Regions from separate parts of the Homo sapiens genome. Here regions 1, 3 and 4 are each linked to region 2. The links come from fine-mapping of genetic effects on gene expression. A gene starts in region 2. Each other region holds a variant in brackets. All regions are shown on one strand. Distances are between the middles of the regions. Region 1 overlaps MARK2 (microtubule affinity regulating kinase 2). Region 2 holds the start of MARK2 (microtubule affinity regulating kinase 2). Region 3 overlaps MARK2 (microtubule affinity regulating kinase 2). Region 4 has its middle 8.7 kb from the start of NAA40.

Region 1 (5,143 bases), 42 kb before region 2:
ACCTCTGATTCCAGCACTTTGGGAGGCCAAGACAGGCAGATCCCTTGAGCCTAGGAACTCGAGGCCAGCCTGGGCAACATGGCAAAACACAGGCTCTACAAAAAAACACAAAAATTAGCCGGGGTGTGGTGACAAGTGCCTGCAATCCCAGCTACTTGGGAGGCTGAGGTGGAAGGATCACCTGAGCCCAGGGAGGTAGGCTGAGGCTGCAGTGAGCCGTGATCACACTGCTGCACTCCAGCCTGGGTGACAGAGTAAGACCCTGTCTCAAAGGAAAAAAAAAAGGAAAATCCATGTCAGTGTTTACCATAGAACGTGGTGTTCAGTAATGTCTTGATGATGTATTCTATTATTATCTAGCTTCATTTTTGGGTAGGAACCATTGTTTCCCCTCTCCAAGGGTTCTCTGGGCTCTGGGAAGAGCTACAATACCTAGAAATTTGACTGTAAGTACCAGTATAGCTAAGTTGATTCCTGTCATCCTGGTATTCCCTCTATAACAAGGAAAAGTCAAATTCTGCCATGGCTGGGCAATCAGGCAAAGAGGACCCTCTTTCCTAACATAAAACCATCCTGCAGGAGGAGTAGCTGAATGACATGGTGCCCATGCCTTCGCCCTCTGTGTGGCCCAGAGGATGACGACAGTGGTCCTGCCAGGGTTCTTCCCTTCTTCATCAGTTCCTTAACTCCCTCCTCCCAGAAAAGGTCCATGAAACAGCCGACATACCAGTACCACATGGTGCCAAGGGCTGAGGGAAGCTCACACTGCCAGCCTCGCACTTTATGCGGTTCCTCCCATACCAGTGGGTTACCGTAACCATGGAGACCAACAAGTTCCTCCATATCACAGGAGAGCCAGCCTGCCAGTAGCCCAGGGCTCTGGGGGATGGGGGTGGTGGGGGTAGGCAGAAGGAAGCCTGCAGCATAGAGGTCTGGCTCACTTTACAGAGGACTGTGGGGAGGCAGCAGATCCTAACCAGTGCAGCTGAGGTGGCTGGGCTTCCTCCTAACCTCGTTTTCTTTGCCTAGTATATATGTTCTTGGCATATTTTCTGGGCTCTCTAGACACTGGGCTTTTCTTCCTAGCTCCACTGCTGTATACTGGGGCACCATATATGGTATAGTAGTGAAGGGTGTCATTCTGGAGTTAGACTGTAGTGATAACCCAGCTCCACTACTCTGTACATGCACATATACAAAAAAATGGAACAATAAAGAGAAGATTAGCATGGCCCCTGTGCAAGGATGACACACAAATTTGTGAAGCATTCCTTTTTTTTTTGAGACAGAGTTTCGCTCCTGTTGCCCAGGCTGGAATGCAATGGCGTGATCTCGGCTCACTGCAACCTCCGCCTCCCGGGTTTCAAGTGATTCTCCTGCCTCAGCCTCCCAAGTAACTGGGATTACAGGTATGCGCCACCATGCCCGGCTAATTTTGTATTTTTAGTAGAGACAGGGTTTCTCCACGTTGGTCAGGCTAGTCTCGAACTCCTGATCTCAGGTGATCCGCCCAGCTCGGCCTCCCAAAGTGCTGGGATTACAGGTGTGAGCCACTAAGCCTGGCCCATATTTTTTAAAAGATTAAAACTTTTATTATTTCAGGCTGGGCATGGTGGCTCAGAGCAAGACTGTCTCAAAAAAAAAATTATTATTTTGAATAAATAAATAAAAATAATAAGAAAAAAGAATGGGTCAGAATTGTGGTACAAAGAGCTACCCAGATCTACACATACTAAAAGGAAAGTGGTCATCTATCCTATGCGCCTTCCTGTGATCCAGGTAAGTCCTCTTATCCGTTGTTTATCTCAAATCCAGACACCGTCTTAGCGGGGAGTGGTCACTCACTTCTCTAGACTCACTTCTCTAGACTCTCAGCGCTCTATCTGTACTCTTCATTTCTTCTTCTTTTGTGAGATGAAGTCTTGCTCTCTTGCCCAGGCTGGACTGCAATGGCACAATCACAGCTCACTGCATCCTCAAACTCCTGGGTTCAAGGGATTCTCCTGCTTCAGCCTCTCGAATAGTTGGGACTACAGGTGTGTGCCACTATGCCTGGCTAGTTTTTTATTTATTTCATTTTTTTTGTAGAGATGGCATCTTGCCATCTTGCCCAGGCTGGCCTCAAACTCCTAGGCTCAAGCAATCTTCCTGCCTCAGCCTCCCAAAGTGCTGGGATTACAGGCGTGAGCCACCACACCCAGCCCCATTGATTTCTTGTTTGTGTCCCCATACCTTAACCCCCTCATGCTCTGACAGATGAGAGCCAGTATCTCCCTCACCTTCATATACCCTCAGTGCCCAACAGTGCCCACACCTAGCTGACCCATGTTACAATACTTAGGGAACAAGAGAGGCACAACTTTTTGATCTTT[A/G]AAGTTGCCCACTCTCGACCCCACTCTCGACCCCAAGAGATAAGGGTAGAGGAAGGAAGATCACAATTTCTTGCTACCAGCCCCATTTCCCCTCTTTCGAGGCATTCGTTGCCCTTGAAGTTGGTTGGTTACTATCTGTCCTTCCTGCTAGACTACACTACAAAAGGAGGGACCTTGGTATTTTTTTTTGAGACAGAGTTTCTCTCTGGCCATCCAGGCTGGAGTGCAGTGGCGTGATCTCGGCTGACTGCAACCTCTGCCTCCCGAGTTCAAGCGATTCTCCTGCCTCAGCCTCCCAAGTAGCTGGGATTACAGGTGCCCACCACCATGCCTGGCTAATTTGTTTTTTTTTTTTAGTAGACGGGATTTCACCATGTTGGCCAGGCTGGTCTCGAACTCCTGACCTCAGGTGATCTGCCTGCCTTGGCCTCCCAAAGTGCTGGGATTACAGGCGTGAGCCACTGCACCAGGCCAGGTCTGTCTTATTCATGGCCCAGAACAATGCCCAGCACAGTATTCAGTAAAGTACTGAATTAATAAATGTGCACAAATGAATACATAAGAAAACATTTTGCGATGTCTTCATGACGGTCTCTGGGACCAACTGATAACTGATAGCCCACTTCAGTGTACTCTGCAAAAAATACCCATGAGGGTAATGAGCCACGAGATCCCCTATCCCAGTGATGGATGAAAAGTGAGTGATCACCAAGGTGAGCTGGAGACAGACTCAGAATATAGGCACAGCCAGGGACCAGCAGGGCCCATCCCACTTGCTCCCCTGAATCAAGCCCTAGCCTTCCTTTCATCGGAGGGAAAACCCTCTCCTTCACACTTCCTGCTGCCCATGACAACCACCAGGTCCTCAGACTTAATACAGTTCTCTCTGCCTCTCTACATTTAGTTTCTCTACTGCTTTGCTATCAAAACCATTGTGTCTTGCTGTGACAATGAATGCAACTCGAGCCATTCTAAGAGCTACCAATTGGGGACGGACAGTGACTTGTATAAGAATCTAGGAGACAATTATTTATTGTTTGCCACACTAAGAGTTCTGCTTTGATATTTGTTACTTGAACCAATGTACTGACTCTAAGGCCCGGTTAACTCTAGGGTGTCAAAATAATTTCACCCATACACACCTGCCTCCTGTCCTGCTGCAAAAATCAGCATTCCCACCCTGCCCCCAACCCCTCCCCAAACTGCCTCCTGTTACAGAAAAGCAAAAGAACTAAAAACGGCAGCTGGGGAGCTCAGTTGACTCACCCAGCATAATCATCTCCTCCCAGAATCTCCCATCTTCTCCTGGGGTTTTTGCCAACACAAAGTAAAAAAGAAGCATGAGATCTTAAAAAAAAAAACAAAAAAAAAACTCAGCATTTATGCAACAGTCTTTCTACCTGGGTACAGATTTAACCCTTTGTTTCTGCCCTTTCCAATGTTGTTTCCTTAAAACTTGCTTGTATGCTGAGGATAAGATCCAGCCTGGAGCTGGGAAACAGGCCTTCTAGACCCCCTAGTCCCAGCATTGCTGCTGGAAAGTGCAGAACAAGACATATGCCTCTTCCTGCTGCATCTTTCTCTGGAAGTGAACAAATACTGCCTCCCTACTCCTCCAGTTTCAAAGAGGGAGTTGAATAAGGAGGAGGAAATGTCAGAAAAAAATACTGGGACAAAGTTTGTTGCTCCAGAAGTCACCATGGCCAGAGGTCAGAGCACATCAGAAACCACCCCAAGGCTGTCACTGCCACCCTCACCTCAGAACTGTCTCCCTGTTGGGCCAGGCTGCAAAGTGGCTACTCCACTTAAGTGACCACTAAAAATCCAACTGGCCAATCTTTCTAGAAGCAAGCCCTTACTGGGCTGCTCCTGCTGAAGGGAGAGGTGCTATCTTTCTCCTGTAGCAGATCATTAAAAAACCAAGCAGGAGAGGGCACCTAAGTTGTGGAATGAGGGCATCCTGTTTCAGGTGCTACTGGACTATGGATCAAATCAGCTGACATGGAGAACCCAGACAAACCTGCCCCTCAAGGCAATCACAGAAGACAAGGGTAGCTCTCTAGCAACCTTTCTGGGTGGGAAGAGGAGGGTGCTTCTTTTCTGTCATTTGGCATATAGGAGGACAACTTACTTGTGTGATAGATAGTGCCATGACCACAAAATGTGATTTTTTAAATGTTTTTTTTTTGAGACAGAGTCTCACTCTATCGCCCAGGCTGGAGTGCAGTGGTGTCATCTCAGCTCACTGCAACCTCTACCTCCTGGGTTCAAGTGATTCTCCTGCCTCAGCCTCCAGAGTAGCTGGGAGTACAGGCGCTCACCACCAGGCCCAGATTATTTTTTTGTATTTTTAGTAGAGATGGGGTTTTACCATGTTGGCCAGGCTGGTCTCAAACTCCTGTCCTCAAGTGATCTGCCTGCCTCGGCCTCCCAAAGTGCTGGGATTACAGGCGTGAGTCACCGTGCCCAGCTGAATACAAAATAAAGAGACACTTCCACAGGCAAATGCAAATCTGTTGCAGCATATTAGTCAAGAAATCCCCAAGTTACCAAAAGTTCTGTTCTAAGAAGGAACTCTTTTTCCATAGAAACATGTTACAAATGGTAGCTGTGTTCTCAGGCCAGCCCATGAGGTCCCAGCATAGTATTTCAAGGGGTACGTGAATTGTACTTAAGACTTAAACCATAGCCCAGAACAGGAAATGAATTCAGAGTTCCAACTCAGGACCCGGGAACAGATCTTTGCTCTCCAAGCACCATGGGCAGCAGAC
Region 2 (5,143 bases):
CAACCCCTATTTCACCCCCAGAAGCAAATAATCCACAAGTAATAAAAGGGTCAACCCTGCAGAGAAAAACTCTGCCTAGAACTTCTCTTTAGTTCCTAACTGCCCAGGTGACAGAGGGCCAGGGGGTAACAAAATAGAAAAACACAGTAAAAGAAAGGAGGTAAGATTTTTCAAAGAAGAATGTTCACATGCAAGAGAATACAACAACTGCTCTACCGGGCTACAAAGAAAGAAGGGAGTAAGAGGGAAACATAAAGGATGGAAGGAGGGGAAAGAAGGCAAAAAGCACAGCAGCCCCGGGGCAGAAGCACTTCTTTTTCAAGTCAAGTTTTTTTGGCCTAGTAAAGTTCTCCACCAAGAAAGGTATGACAGGCAGGGGACTCTGCACAGAGCAGTCAGCAAAGGACGCTAGAGATGGTGAAAGAAAGGGGAGGTGTGGAAAGTGGACGTCTCTGGGATCAAAAGTGAGATGACACAGAAAGGCTAAGACTTGGGTGAAAAACATAGCAGTGACTGCCAGGATGAGGGGGACCGTGTAGAGTCGTGAGGCTGAGGTGTAGCTCAAGAAACTAGCATGCAAAACACCTGGACTTCCTGGGCATTACAGAGACTTAGCCAATAGGAACAGAATGGATCCAAGCACGGTGTGGGGATACACAGGACATGAAGAAGGCAGGAGACTAATGCGGAGATGAAAGGCAACGCTGATTAAAAGGCACAGTAAGGAAGATGGGGTGAGGGTGGAGAAACAGGAAGGCAACAAGCAAGAAAGAAAATACTCTAAGTGCCAGGCACGGGAGTGAAGACACAGAAAGTCATCATGGTTTGTGTTCCAGCGTACGAAGACAGAAAGGCAAAAACTGTGATGCAGCGAGGTCTGGGAAAGGACTGAGCAACAGGTTGTGTTAATACGGTGGGGCCAAGTGTCTTTGGGTTGGGAGAAAGAGCCCAGTAGAAGGCTGGTAGAACACTCACAGAGAGAAACAAGAGGCCCAGGGACCTAAAAGCCAAACCCGAGGGGAAGAGAACAAGAGGGATCCAAAGACTCTGAAGGGAGTGATGATTGGAACCCCAAACGCAACCTGTGGGAAAACTATGCGCATGACAGCTGTGGGGAAACACGGAAGCGACAAATGCCAGCGCCAGGATCCAGGGAGCTCCTGGAGCAAAGAAGGGAAAGTGATGAGCAAAGAGTAGGCGAAGGATTTGGAAAGGTGATGAGGGTGGAGCTGGTGGGTTGCAAGCAAGAGGGAGAGCACAATTTGGAAAACGAAGAAGCAGGGTAGAAAAAGCTGGGGGAACTGCAAGGGGCCAGGGATCGAGAGCGCAGTCCAGGGCAAGGACCCTGAGGGTGATAACCCAGAGACTGGCAGAACCGGTGCGGGCGGAGGGGAAGCGAGGCAGGAGAGACGAAGGGAGAGGTGGACAACGATCTGTGGCAAATCGCGGGGTGCTGCTATTCGAGGAGCGGGAGGGTGGCTGCTTTAAGCGTGGGTGGAGGAAGACCAGAAAGGCCCCTGAGAGAAAAAGGGAAGAGAAAGGGAAGCTGGGGAGGTGACACGGAAGAGCGCAGGAGGGCGGTGAGGGGAGACGGGGGTTGGCAGAAAGACAAGTGTGCAGCTTGGAGTCAGGACGAGGTGGGTCCCAGGTCAGGACTCGGAAGCGGGATGTGCGGAGCCGGAGCCAGGAGCCGGATGACAGGGCAGCCGAGGCTTGCAGGATGGCAGCAGGGGCACGAGGAGAGCAGAAGAGGGAGGAGGCTCCGCAAGGTGCAAAGGGCCCAGCCAGAGAATTCGGGGAGCCCTCGGGGCTCCTTACCTGCTCCGTGTCCCTCTCGTTCAGCGTGGGTAGGGGGGTCCGAGCGCTGGACATGGCGCCGGTATCTCGGGGGAGGGAACCGAGAAGCTTGGAGGAAGGGAGGGAAGGGAAGGCGCGGAGCCCGGCCGGGCGGGGCTTCTCACAGCAGGAGCACCCGCCGCATGGGCCCCGGCCGGGGGTGCGGGGAGGCCGGGCAGCCGCTCACGCCAGCCCGGGGATGCGCCGCTCGGGCTAGGCCGCGCCGGCTCCGAGCGGCTCCGGACCGCACCCCCCCGACCCCCGGCTGGGCTGTGCCGCCTTTCGGCCGGGCCGCGCCGCTCCGCCTACTCTCTGCCGCCGCAGCCGGCCGCCTGCCTCGCTCCTCCCCTGCCCTCAGCGGCACTGCTCCGCGCCCGGCACACAGGCAGCCGCCGCCGGACCTGCTGCTCCCAACATGGCCGCCACCACCGCCGGCCCTCGGCTCTTTTCGCCGGCAGCAGCCGGAAACATCCGAAGCGGCTAGAAACGGGAGGTGGGGCGCGCCTTCTCCTCCCGGCCACAGACTACGGGTGAATTCCGGAAACAGCCGAAGAAGGTAAACCCCGGGGACGCGCTCTCCTCCTCGATTCCGAAGACGAAGCTTCGGCTCTGTTTACGGAAATCCACGAAGCGACCCCGGGTGCCTACCCCCCGCCCCCGTCCACGGCCATCCAGCCACGCCCACCGGCCTTTCCCCGCCCACTTCAAGGGGGCTTTCGGCAGTTTCCGGAAATACCCGAAGCTGCTCCGCGTGCTGAGCCGGCCACGCCCCCTCCCACAGCCCTGCCGAGGGCGGTCGTCGGCCATTTCCGGCAACACCCGAGGCCCTCCGAGCACCCGGTCGTTTCCCCGGGTGGCTCTCGGAGTCTGATTCGCTTCGTGTCTTTCCGTCAGTTTTCGGGCATTTTCAAACCTTGAACAGGAAGCGTGGGTCACCTGTCTGTGCTTGTGATTTGACTAAATACAAAACAAGATTGTTAGCCGTCCCTGTGATTGGCATCCTCTGGTTCTATAGCAGCTTCCTGTCTGCATTTCTGTCCATCTGTCGGTCAGCTCATAAAATTCATCTTCTTTTTATCATCTAGCCTATCAATATACCTGTCAAATGCAGCATCAGTCTATTGCCTGTCTGCCACCGTCTATCTTGGCTTCTGTGGATTCATCCGTGCATTCCCGCATCTAGTCCGCAGGGCTCGGCAAGGCCCCAGGCAGGCCCAGGGCAGCGTCCTCTGCACCGGATGCGGGAGCGTCCAGGGCCCTGCATTTCAGCCCCAGCTCTGCCAAGTGCCAATGCTGCGTGATCTTGGAAAAATCACATAACATCACTGAGTTTAGGCTCCTCTTTCCTTTGCCTTTGCTCCTGCGTTGACATTCAAAATGACATTTCTGAATTCCAGTTACCTTTTAAAATGCCTCTGCAAGATAAGGCATTTAAAGTTTCTTTTCTTTCCTCCTCTGGGCCTCATTTTCCCCATCAGTAAAGTGAAGCCATTGGATTCATGAACTCGGAGGTCCTTCTCAGCTTTGGAGAGCCCTTGACTAACAGGAAGTCTGTATGGCAACTGCAGTCCATTCCTCACTTCCCCTTACACTGCGTTACCAAGGACAGGGAGTATCCTGGGCTGATTTCCCCAGCGCCAAGCTGTCCTCACCCATAGTACCTGGAACACGTTGGAACCACACCCTCCCATCAGTGGCTTAAGGTGGGCAGGAGGCAGAGGCCCCGCAGGAGTCAGAAACCAGACTCAGGCAACAGGTTCCCAAAGGTACAGGAGCAGAGAGGCTCCAGGAGTTATTGGGAAAACTGCTGATTGGACCCCTGCTACTTGACCTCCAACTCCCAGCTACAGCATCTTGAGCCAGCCTTCATCCCATCAATCAGAGAAATAGGCATCTGAGCAGATGTAATTACCAGGGTATGAAAGTACTTCCTAAGGCAACAGGTATCACTACACTCTTAGTAAATCCTGGGACTTCAGCACTGCTCCCCATGCCCCATACCAGCTCTATTCAGGCACCCAACCGTTGAGGAAGAAGGTGAAGGCACACCCATGAAGGTGAGGGAAAGAGAGAAGAGGAGGACAGAGAACACCTCACTCCCCAACCCAAATTCGATCCTTGAGAATCATCTGCCCTCTGGTGGCCAAAGGGAGACACGTTGCTGATTCCTGTGCCTGGTATCACCTCTAATGCCAGGGTCTGGAAAGCAGGGAAAAGAGAGAGGAAGCAGTTGGTGGTTGGTGTTCCAGCAGTCTCTCCCTGGTCCACACTCTCGTCTAAATAGACTCCATCTTCTCCAAGCTTCTCACTCTAGCTCTAACCCCTGCCTCACCCCTGCCCTTTGACCTTCATCCCCAACCCCTACCCTACCTATCCTTTCTCTTCCTTGCTAGCTTTGCACAAGGCTGCTGAGCTTGTCTCCCCGCCTAGACTCCCTCCAACCTACTGCACCAGACATGTCAGAATAATCTTCCCAAAGTCCAGCTCCAATAACATCTCTGCTCTGCTAGAAAGCTATCACCAGCTCCCTCACTGGTTATAGGCAGGGCTGGCTTCTTGGGCCCACGACCCCATGCAGTCACACAGAGCCCTGTGCTCAGGTGGACCCTGAGCTTGGATTAATGCTCTGCTGTCACCATCTTGAAATTTTTTTTTTTAAGACTGAATCTCGCTCTATCTCCCAGGCTGGAGTGCAGTGGTGCGATCTCAGCTCACTGCAACCTCCACCTCCCAGGTTCAAGTGATTCTCATGCCTCAGCCTCCTGAATAGCTGGGATTATAGGTGCCCACCACCACACCCGGCTAATTTTTTGTGTTTTTAGTAAAGACAGGGTTTCACCATGTTGGCCAGTTTGGTCTAGAACTCCCAACCTCAAGTGATCCACCTGCCTCGGCCTCCCAAAGTGCTGGGATTACAGGCGTGAGCCACCACGCCCGGCCCATTATCTTGAAATTTTTGACCAAGGGGGCCATGCATTTCCATTTTGCACTGTGCCCCACAAATTATGTAGCTGGTCCTGGCTGTAGGAAAAGCCTTTAGCCTGCATTTAAAACTTTGCTCAATCTGGCCTCACATTGCCTTACAATAACCTCTCCAACTATCACTGATCACACTTCTCCCTAACTCCTACCCCGCTGCCAGTCTCTCTCACTTCCATGCCTTTGGTCAAGCTGATAGATGATTGCCCATCATCCACCTCAGCTTCCAGAACCACTTCAAGATCCAGTTCAAATCTCACCTACTCAAATCCATGAACCCTCCTAGTTCTCCTCAAAGATGAATTATTGCCACACATTTACCCCCTCT
Region 3 (5,120 bases), 72 kb before region 2:
GACCATCCTGGCCAACATAGTGAAACCTGTCTCTACTAAAAATACAAAAATTAGCTGGGCGTGGTGGCACACACCTGTAATCCCAGCTACTCGGGAGGCTGAGACAGGAGAGTCTCTTGAACTTGGGAGGCGGAGGTTGCAGTGAGCTGAGATTGCACCACTGCACTCCAGCCTGGGCGACAGAGTGAGATTCCGTCTCAAAAAAAAATAGGCCGAGCACGGTGGCTCATACCTGTAATCCCAGCACTTTGGGAGGCTGAGGTGGGTGGATCACCTGAGGTCGGGAGTTCGAGACCAGCCTGACCAACATGGAGAAACCCTGTCTCTACTAAAAAAAAATACAAAATTAGCCAGGTGTGGTAGCAGGCGCTTGTAATCCCAGCTACTCAGGAGGCTGAGGCAGGAGAATCGCTTGAACCCGGGAGGCAGAGGTTTTGGTGAGCTGAGATTGCGCCATTGCACTCCAACCTGGGTAACAAGAATAAAACTCCTTCTCAAAAAAAAAAAAAAAAAAATATATATATATATATATATATAAAAAATAAAAATATAAACTGGTCTGCAGAAAGGGGAGAACCCCAGCGGCTCCCCTACTGAGTAGTTGTTTAGGAGGAACAAGCCAGATGGTGGATGGCAGAAAGCTTTGCCGGGGCAGTGGTGCTGGTGTCTGTGCAGAAGTAGGGTCCTGTGAGGGGCATAGTGGCCTGCCTGAGATGGGAGTCTGATATTCCTCCACTTCCTGGCCTTCCCAGGTACAGAGCATGAAGCAGACGAACAGCAGCCTGCGCCAAGCCCTGGAGGGCGGTATTGATCCACTACGCCCCCCGGAGGTATGGCTGCTCTTTAAGTTAGGGTGCAAAGGGGGGTTTCTCTCTGGAGGCAGAGCAGAAAGAGTACTGCTTGGGGAGCAGGGCTTCCATTTGCATGGTTTTGAGTCTAAAGGATATGTTGTTCCTTGCTTTCCAGGCCAACACCAAGTTCAACTCCCGCTGGACCACAGATGAGCAGCTTTTGGCTGTTCAAGGTGGGTTAAACTGTGGTGAGAAGAGAGGACCCCAGGAATCTATCTCCCCACCCTCCAAGGAGTGGGGGGGCAGAGGGGAAGGGTCAGGGAAGTAACTAGTTCGAAGGGGTATTGACGCTGCTGCCCTTTTGACCCTTGCAGCCATCCGTAGGTATGGCAAAGACTTTGGGGCTATTGCAGAGGTGATTGGGAACAAGACTCTGACCCAGGTGAAGACTTTCTTTGTGAGCTACCGGCGCCGCTTCAATCTGGAGGAGGTGCTGCAGGAATGGGAGGCTGAGCAGGATGGGGCCCCTGGAGCCCCAGTCCCCATGGAGGAGGCTAGGAGAGGGGCTCCATTGCCAGCCCCAGCCCTAGAGGAAGATGATGAGGTGAGAAGGGGGTGAGAGAAACCCCTCAGAGAGGAGAGGCGAGGCGAGGTGAGGCGCCGCCTTGGTCCTTAGACTGGGCTGAGGGCGGGAAGAGCCTGGCTTCTCACTCTTTCCTCTCCCCTCAGGTCCAGATTACATCGGTCTCCACGTCCGTGCCCCGATCAGTGCCCCCTGCGCCACCACCCCCTCCACCTCCCACCTCGCTGTCCCAGCCACCCCCGCTGCTGAGGCCACCTTTGCCCACGGCTCCCACTCTGCTCCGACAGCCACCCCCACTGCAGCAGGGCCGCTTCCTCCAGCCCCGGCTGGCCCCCAACCAGCCCCCACCGCCTCTCATCCGCCCCGCTCTGGCTGCCCCCCGCCACAGCGCCCGCCCTGGCCCTCAGCCCCCACCCACCCTGATTGGAACCCCTCTGGAGCCCCCAGCACCCTCACTCTGAGCCCTGACGTCCTCCACCAACCACGGGCTCCAGGACCCCTTTGCTGGCCATCCCCAGGCATCTCTGGTGTCACTGAGGACAGAAGGGACTAGGGCTCTGGCGGGGTCTTTGTAAGACCAGAGTTTCGGACAGCCCAGCCCCGCCCTTTGGGTTCTGCATGTGTTCCTGGCAGCTGGGCCTGTCTCCTGGGGCCATGGCCGGGCTCAGGGGCCTTTGAGCTGGCCTGAGGGCACTTTCGCTTCCTGGCCGGTACTGGAATGGCTGTGTCCTAGTCTGCTGGGGCTTGGCCTCTGGGTCCTGCCCTTTGTGTGTCCGGGGTAGTGACCTTAGCGTGGAGTGGGGAGAGGGCAGTTGGGTGTGCTGGCTGTTCTCATTCCTCTTTCCCTTCTTTTAGCAATAAGTCTGGGGTGAGGTGGGGAGGGAGGCTGCAGGGGGGGAGGTGGGCAGAGGGGCCTTACAGCAGCAGAGGCTGGAAGAGAAGCTCTGTCTTCAGGGGCCAGCTGGGAAATGCTAAGGAGCTGAGGGTGCCCACCAAGCCCACCTTCCAGAAACTTGGAGAAATGGGGGTTGGGAACTTATGCAGACATGGATTTATTTTTCAACATTTTTTAAAAATTAAAAAAAATAAAATCTAAGCTTACTGAGTTTTCTTTCCCTTTTGGTGCAAGGGCCCTGGGCTTTGCTTCCTGTCTGTGCCCTGTGGGTAAGTGGGGAGCTGGGCCCACCCAGCACTGGCCCCAGACAGGAATCAAGTCTCTCCTGCAAGGCAGGTGGGCTAGGCCACATCTTGCCCACAGGAGACTGGGTCCCTGCCTGGCTGGGAGAAGAAACAGGAGGAGGCAGCTCAGATTCCAAACATTCTCTTTATTACGTGTTTGATCCAGAGGAGAAACTAAGTGCAGGGTTGGGGAGGAGGGGGCTAGACGGGGAGGGGCCACCTTGCCTGGGTGCCCCGGGCCCCTACCCCCTTTGGGAGCCAAGCCATGCCCTCCCAGCCCCCTCAGAGCACCCGGGCTGTTCCATAGGGCAGGAGGGGGGAAGGGAGGGAGGGGGAGCCCTTGGTCTGAGCCGCAGTAGGAGTGTGGGGCAGGAGGGCTGAGGTTGGCAAGGCCCCTTCCTAGGACGCAAGGGCTCGGCTTAATCGCTGAGCCTGGCCTGGGAGCGGGGGTGATGAAGAGGGGTGGAGTCATCATAAATCAAAAAAAAAAAA[A/TAAA]ATAAAATAAAATAATAAAAAATAAAACCCATCACAAAAAAATGTACAACTCAGGTGAGGGTAGGGGCAGCCTCTGTGTAGGACTCCCACCCCCAATTTCTCAAGAACAGAAACAGCAGAGAAATAAATTAAGGGATGCAGTGGCCACCACCAGCCAAGCGCCCCAAACCGCCCACGCCCACACTGGCCACTGAGGGTAGCAAGCTGGGAGTCGCTTAGCCTATCTGTCCCCCACCCTGTGGAGGGCAGACGCTCCCGGCCCTGCTGCCTAACTCAGCCTTCTGCCAGGTGGCCCTCGGCAGTGTCTCCTGAGAGGAGGGGGCGACAGTGTCAGGAAGAAAAGGCAAGGCTGAGAGATGAGAGTGGTGAGGGAAGTCACTGCTATGGAGAGAGCTGGTGCCCAGATTAATGCCAATGAAGGGGAAGCCATGGGGAGAGGAAGGGCGAGGGGGCTGTGCTTTCAGACAAAGGCTCCCCCATCACAGAGTGCCCAGTGGCCCTGCTCTGGAGACCAACAGCCCAAGCGGCCCCCTGGGGACCGAGAAGCCAGTCTGCCCTCCAGTCCCCTCCCCTCTCCCAGCCCTGGGGTCAGCCCCTCCTTCTACCCGGGAGGGGTGGGAGAAGATGGCACAGACTTTGAGGGAACACACGTCCCCACAGCAGCTTGTGGAAGGAAATGCCCAGCTCTGGGGAGGAGGGGCAGAGGGTACAGTGTGGAGGGAGGCGGAGCCTTGTGCCGGCCCTCCAGCCTCAGCAGCCCCGGAGCAGCCCCCAGCCCCACCCACTGCAGGGCTGCGCAGCACCCCCGCCCCCTGCCCCACCGCCCAGGCCTCCAGCCCAGGGGCCTGAGGTCAGGGGAAGGCCACCTCTGGTGGTTTGCTTGGAGGGGAAGGAGGGAGGAGAGGGGAGAAGCCCACAGTGGGCCTGGCGGAGGGCCTGACGGGAGCTCCACCACTCTTGCCTGAGAGTGTTCCAGCCCTGAGCCACCCTCCCGGGAAACCCCACAGATCCAGTCTCGACTGTCCCAATGGGGCAGGGAGGAAAGGTGGCCGCTGGGATTTTTTTTTTCTTTTTTCTTTTTGGTAATAAAAAATTTCTTGGTTTAGGCGAAATACTCTGTGCAACCGCAGTACCGAGGGGGAGCCCTGCCCCCCCATCCACCCTCCCCTTCCTTTGCCTCCAGTAGGGGAGAGGAGAAGGGGGAATCTCTGGGCAGGGGTGAATGTGGGGTGCTGGAGAACAATCTCCCACCCCCCACAAACATGTAAGAGAAAACTGAGAAGGGCCAGGGAGGGGAGAAGTGCCAGCAGGGGAGACACACCAATCCATCGCTGCAGTCTCGCCCAGGTGGGGCGGCGCAGCGGCCGGCAGCCCGTCCAGCTGGCCCGCCCCCGCCGCCCCCGCTCCTGGCAGCCTGTTAAAGCTTCAGCTCGTTGGCTATTTTGGAGGCAATGTTTTTGAAGGCCATGGAGGTGCCCGATATCCGCTTAAATCGAACCCCGTTGAGAGAGAGCCGCGGCAGTTTGCACACCTCCATCTCCCACTGCACGAAGTCCTCGTGGCCCGGCGTGCCGTGCATGCACAGCAGCATGTACTTCTCATGCAGCTCGCTCTGGCAGCTGTTCGCGTCCAGCACCTTGCGGATCTCCCGCATCATCTCGTTGGGCTCCATGGAGCTCGTGGTCTTCATACTCCACGTGAAGCGGAGGGAGCGGGGCTTGGCCTCCCGAAATTCTTCCTTTTCTTTGTCGTTGCCGCCACTGCCCACCACGTGAGGTCTGTGGAGAGGGCAGAGGCGGGCGTCACGGGGGGGCTGAGGCACCCCACCCCAGGAGAGCCACCCTGGCAGACAGCCCCTGAGCCCAGAGAGGAGAGCGGGAGGGAGCAGGAGCAGCCAGGCGTGGCCCCTGGCCTGCGGGGGCGGAGGGTGGCAGTCCTCCAACCCCCATCTCTCAGGACAGCGAAGGGGAGGAGAAGCCAGCCTTGGGGTAGGCGGGGTGGGGTCAGGGAAGACACCAGTGCCCTCAACAGCACGAGCACAGACTCTCTCTCCAGAAAGAAGCCTCCGAGCACAG
Region 4 (5,143 bases), 91 kb before region 2:
GCAGTGGGCCAAGATTGAGCCACTGCACTCCAGCCTGGGCAATAGAGGGAGACTCCATCTCAAAAAAAAAAAAAAAAAAGGGTGAAACCCCGTCTCTACTAAAAATACAAAAATTAGCCCGGCCTGGTGGCGGGCGCCTGTAATCCCGGCTACTCAGGAGGCTGAGGCAGAGAATTGCTTGAACCTGGGAGACAGAGGTTGCAGTGAGCAGAGATCGCACCACCGCACTCCAGCCTGGGCAACAAAGCGAGACTCCATCTAAAAAAAAAAAAAAATTAGCCAGACGTAGTGACGCACACCTGTAGTCCCAGCTACCTGGGAGGCTGAGGCAGGAGAATCGCTTGAACCCTACAGGCGGAGGTTGCAGTGAGCCGATATTGCACCACCGCACTCCAGCCTGGGCAATAGAGCAAGACTCTATCTCAAAAAAAAAAAAAAAGTATGTGTCCCCTTCTCCCCTCCCTGGCATCGCATCCCTCCCGCCGCACCCACATTGACCAGGCTTTCTACGCTGCCTCATTTACCCTTCTCTCCAACCCCCACGCAGGGGGCTGAAGCACCCCTTCTCCACACTCGGCTCCGACCTCTCCGGCAAGGGACTCTGTCTCCCTCATCTCTCCGAGGCCCCTGGACTCCCTGGCTCCTCCCTCCTCCGCTGCCTCTTCCTCCCTATGCCTCAGACACAGCCACTCCCAATCTCCAGGCTTTGCCCTCTTCTCCCTCTATGGCCCGCAGCCGCTCCCAAGTATTCATTCACTCCTTCATTCAGCCAAGGCACGGGGGCCGCCATGTGCTCCGCTTTGCCTTCTGTGCGGAGGAACAGCTTGGGAGACAGCTCCTGCCAGAGAAGGAGAGCACGTTTGGGGAGGGCAGTCATCGCACTGTGTGATGAGTGGGCAGCTGAGAGTCCCCGGACTTCCCCAGAAGAATCTGAATTTACACTTCTCCTCCTGCCACCCAAGGCCAGGTCCACCTAGAGTGTCAAACGCTAAGGCCCCTCAGGGTCCCTCCCGGCTGTGAACCTCTTTCCCCAGGCCTCCTTCGCTTGTGCTCCTTCCTGGCTCCTGCCCGCCCTAGGGGGCCTCTCTTCCCTACTCAAAAGCTTGTGGAGGCCAGGGGTGGTGGCTTACGCCTATAATCCCAGCACTTTAGGAGGCTGAGGCAGGTGATCACTTGAGGTCAGGAGTTTGAGACCACCTGGCCAACACGGCAAAACCCCACCTCTACCAAAAATACAAAAAAAATTAGCCAGGAGTGGTGACGCACACTTGTAATCCCAGCTACTCAGGAGGCTGAGGCAGGAGAATCACTTGAACCCAGGAGGCGGAGGTTGCAGTGAGCCGAGATCTCGCCACTGCACTGCAGCCTGGGTGACAAAAACAACAACAACAAACAAACACACACACACACACAAAAAGCTTGTAGAGGCAACAGCCTACCCTGTGTCTCCTTCCTTAGCTTCTCATTCCTCTCACTCCTCAACCCCTGCAGCTTGGCTGCTGTCCCCTGCAACCTACGCCTCCCTCCTGGTGCCTCCAGCAGTTTTGCTAACTCCAACTGTGCTTCCCTGTCTCAGCCTCATCTTTCCGGCCCTTCCTGCAACATGTAGCTCTGTTATTCCCTCCCTCTTCCTTGAAACACTGTTCTTCCCTTGGCTCCTGTGACACCACACGCCCCTGTTTTTCTAAAACCCACATCTGGTTGGTCAGTTAAAGGCCTTCTGCGGCTCTAAACTCTGTATGGTTGTTCCACCCCTGCCCGCTTGGCCAGGGCCGCTGCTCCATGTGGCATCCTGTGCTCCCTGCAGTGGGTGACTGTGCCTTTCTGCTGTTAGGGTTGCCAGATTCCATAAGTGGGACAAACTGAAACTCACTGTTTATCTGAAATTTATTTTCTGTTTTATTTATTTATTTTTTAGACAGGGTCTCGCTCTGTAGCACTCTGCTGGAGTGCAGTGCAGTGGCACGATCTCGACTCACTGCAACCTCTGCCTCCTGGGTTTAAGTGATTCTCCTGCCTCAGCCTCCCAAGTAGGTAGGATTACAGCTGCGCACCACCACGCCCGACTACCATTTATCTGAAATTTAAATTTAACTGGCCAGGCACAGTGGCTCACGCCTGTAATCCCAGCACTTTGGGAGGCTGAGGCACGTGGATCACATGAGGTCAAGAGTTTAAGACCAGCCTGGCCAACATGGTGAAACCCTGTCTCTACTAAAAATACAAAAATTAGCCGGGCGTGGTGGTGGGCATCTATAATCCCAGCTACTCAGGAGGATGAGGCAGGAGAATCGCTTGAACCTGGGAGGAAAAAAAAAATAAAATAATAAAATAAAATAATTTGAGAGAGAGTCTTGTTCTGTCTCCAGGCTGGAGTGCAGTGGCACCATCCTGGCCCACTGCAACCTCCCCCTGCCAAGTTCAAGCTATTCTCCTGCCTCAGCCTCCCGAGTAGCTGGGATTACAGGCGTGCACCACCACACCTGGCTAATTTTTGTATTTTTAGTAGAGACAAGGTTTCACCATGTTGGTCAGGCTGGTCTCAAACTCCTGATCTTAAGTGATGCCCTCGCCTTGGCCTCCCAAAGTGCTGGGATTACAGGCATGAGCCACCATGCCCAGCCGTCTTGTATTTTTATGTGCTAAATTTGGCACCAGCTTGGTGCCTGGTGTAAAGCACACACTCAGTAAATGTTAGCTGAAGGAATATGGGCAGTGATGGCGGCAGGCACAGGTGCTGTAGGGCACAAAAGAAGCAAGGTCCCTAGAGGAGGTAACACCTGAGCCCTGCAGATGGAACTATTAGGTCATACACCAACAGCCCCTCCATGGAGATATCTCCCACAGTGGGTTGAATAGAATCCCCCCAGATTATATGTTCAAGTCCTAACCATCCCCCTACCCTGTATCTGTGAATGTGACCTTAATTGGAAATAGAGTCTTGCAGATGTAATTAAGTTAAAGCT[C/T]TTGGGATGAGATCATCCTGGATTTAGGGTGGGCCCTAAATCCAATGACTGGTGTCCTTAGAAGAGAAAGCAGAGGGAGATTTGAGATACAGCAGGAAGACAGCCATGTGAAGCCGGAGCCGGAGACTGGAACGAGGCAACTAGGAGTCAAGGACTGCCAAGGAGAGAGGCACGCAGTGGGTTTTCCCTCAGAGCCTAGAAAAGGAACCAGCTCTGCCAACACCTTGATTTTGAGCTTCTGGGAGAACTGGGACAAAACGAATTGCTGTTGTTTTAAGCCATCTGGTTTGTGATACTTCATTAGGGCAGCCCGGGAAAACTAACACACTCCCAAGGCTCCATGTTTCCCAAAATCTCTGTTTCTTCTTTCAGGACCTCCACCCCCAGAACCCTCTCTAGTACCAGACCTCTTATCCGGCCTGTGTAGCCAGCCACCAACATGGCCCCAGTAATCTTTTGTTGTAGTAGTTGTTATTTTTTTAAGACAGAATCTCGCCCTGTTGCCCAGGCTGGAGTGCAATGGGGCGATCTCGGCTCATTGCAACTTCCGCCTCCTGGATTCAAGTGATTCTCCTGCCTCAGCCTCTCAAGTAGCTGGGATTACAGGCATGTGCCACCATGCCCAGCTAATTTTTTTTGTATTTGTAGTAGAGACGGGGTTTCACCATGTTGGCTAGGCTGATTTCGAATGCCTGATCTGAGGTGATCCACCCACCTCAGCCTCCCAAAGTACTGGGATTACAAGCATGAGCCACCGCACCCGGCCTCTGTTTTTTTTTTTTTTTTTTTTTTGAGACAGAGTCTTGCTCTGTCGCCAGGCTGGAGTGCAGTGGTGCCATCTCGGCTCAATGCAACCTCCACCTCCTGGGTTCAGACAATTCTTCTGCCTCAGTCTCCCAAGTAGCTGGGACTACAGGCGCCCGCCACCATGCCCGGCTATTTTTTGTATTTTTAGTAGAGGCGGAGTTTCACCATGTTGGCCAGGCTGGCTTCGAACTCCTGACCTCATGATCCGCCCACCTTGGCCTCCCAAAGTGCTGGGATTACAGGTGTGAGCCACCGCGCCCGGCGCCTCTGTTCTTTATAACCCAGTCTCAGATGTTCTGTTACAGCAGCACAATGGACTAAGACAACGGCAGAACCCCGCCTTTGCTCGGGTGATGGGTAGGGGTCATGGCAGGTGTGCTGGAGTACAAGCACCATGGGTCTAATCCAAGCCTAGGAATCCTGTTCTCCTTTGAGGGATTGGTTTAAGGGACTTGGGGCTGTTCTGGGATTCCTGGGAAGGGTTGTTCTTCCTGATAGATAACAAGACAAATGCCAAGGAGAGAGTCCGTGCTCCCTGCCCCTCCTCTCCCACTCTGGAAATTGTCCTCAGAGGATGGGATGCTTGGAGCAGCTGCAGCCATCTAGTGATCATGAGGAGAAATCTGATACGTGGAAGGGACAATGCTGAGAAAGGAGAAGCACCTGAGACCTCGATGACCACTGAGCCTCTGTCAGTGGTGACACTGACCTCCTGACTCCTTAGGAAAGGTAAAATGCCTGCTTTGCCCAAGTCATCACTGAGTGGCTGTTCCTCTACTTGCAGCCACATGCATCTTAACTGAAAGGGAGGGGACACAAGATTTTGAAAATATGTCTCTGGTATCACCCAGCTTGGGACTGGCTCTCAGCTCTGCCACCATCAAGCTGTGTGATCTTAGGCAGGTGACCTGAAGCCTCAGCCTTTCGTCTGGAAAATAGGGCTGCTATGGGGGAAAAATGGGATAACCCAGGTAAGGCATTTTGCACATGGTGGTTGGTATATATATGCATTCATTTCATTTGTTTATTCCTCCACTAATTTATTTAACAATGGTATTTAAACACCTACTATATACTTGCACTAATAGGGTTTGGGAATGTAGTTGTGAAAAACTAACTAATAAGCACTTGAAATTGGCTCTTACTTCTACTATTATTACAAGACTTTGCCTTCAAGGAGCAGGTCCTGATATGTTGGTAAAATCAAGATAGGTTTGGCAGAAGTGATCTTCTTGGACCTACCAGTGTGGGTATCTGTAGTGAGAGGGGCTGGGGGCAGTTAGGGAGGGGAGGAGCAGTTAGGAAGGGGGCTGGGGGCAGTTAGGGAGCTGGGGGCTGTTAGGGAGCTGGGAGCAGTTAGGAAGGGCTTT

Evidence for each region.
Region 1: its variant is fine-mapped to the expression of MARK2 in whole blood (TOPMed, PIP above 0.99).
Region 3: its variant is fine-mapped to the expression of MARK2 in whole blood (INTERVAL, PIP above 0.99).
Region 4: its variant is fine-mapped to the expression of MARK2 in whole blood (TOPMed, PIP above 0.99).

The regions. Positions count from the first base shown.
Region 1 is chr11:63,878,724-63,883,866 of GRCh38, reverse strand. All of the region lies in intron 1 of MARK2 (microtubule affinity regulating kinase 2), which reads right to left. It also overlaps the pseudogene RNU6-1306P. Among named protein-coding and RNA genes, the nearest start is that of RCOR2, 36 kb to the left of the region's middle. The variant A/G (reference allele first, on the strand shown) is at 2,373.
Region 2 is chr11:63,836,236-63,841,378 of GRCh38, reverse strand. It overlaps MARK2 (microtubule affinity regulating kinase 2), which reads right to left and starts at 2,269. Exons shown (of 19, transcript NM_001039469.3): 1 at 1,819-2,269. The coding sequence starts at 1,872. RefSeq lists a silencer at 1,935-2,174 and enhancers at 2,185-2,334, 2,595-3,583.
Region 3 is chr11:63,908,580-63,913,699 of GRCh38, reverse strand. It overlaps MARK2 (microtubule affinity regulating kinase 2), which reads right to left. Exons shown (of 19, transcript NM_001039469.3): 19 at 2,680-4,823. The coding sequence ends at 4,463. RCOR2 (REST corepressor 2) reads left to right here. Exons shown (of 12, transcript NM_173587.4): 9 at 753-830; 10 at 967-1,024; 11 at 1,166-1,395; 12 at 1,521-2,470. The coding sequence ends at 1,835. Among named protein-coding and RNA genes, the nearest start is that of RCOR2, 6.0 kb to the left of the region's middle. RefSeq lists a silencer at 3,149-3,443. The variant A/TAAA (reference allele first, on the strand shown) is at 3,046.
Region 4 is chr11:63,927,735-63,932,877 of GRCh38, reverse strand. It overlaps a transcript of RCOR2 not described here. Among named protein-coding and RNA genes, the nearest start is that of NAA40, 8.7 kb to the left of the region's middle. The variant C/T (reference allele first, on the strand shown) is at 2,967.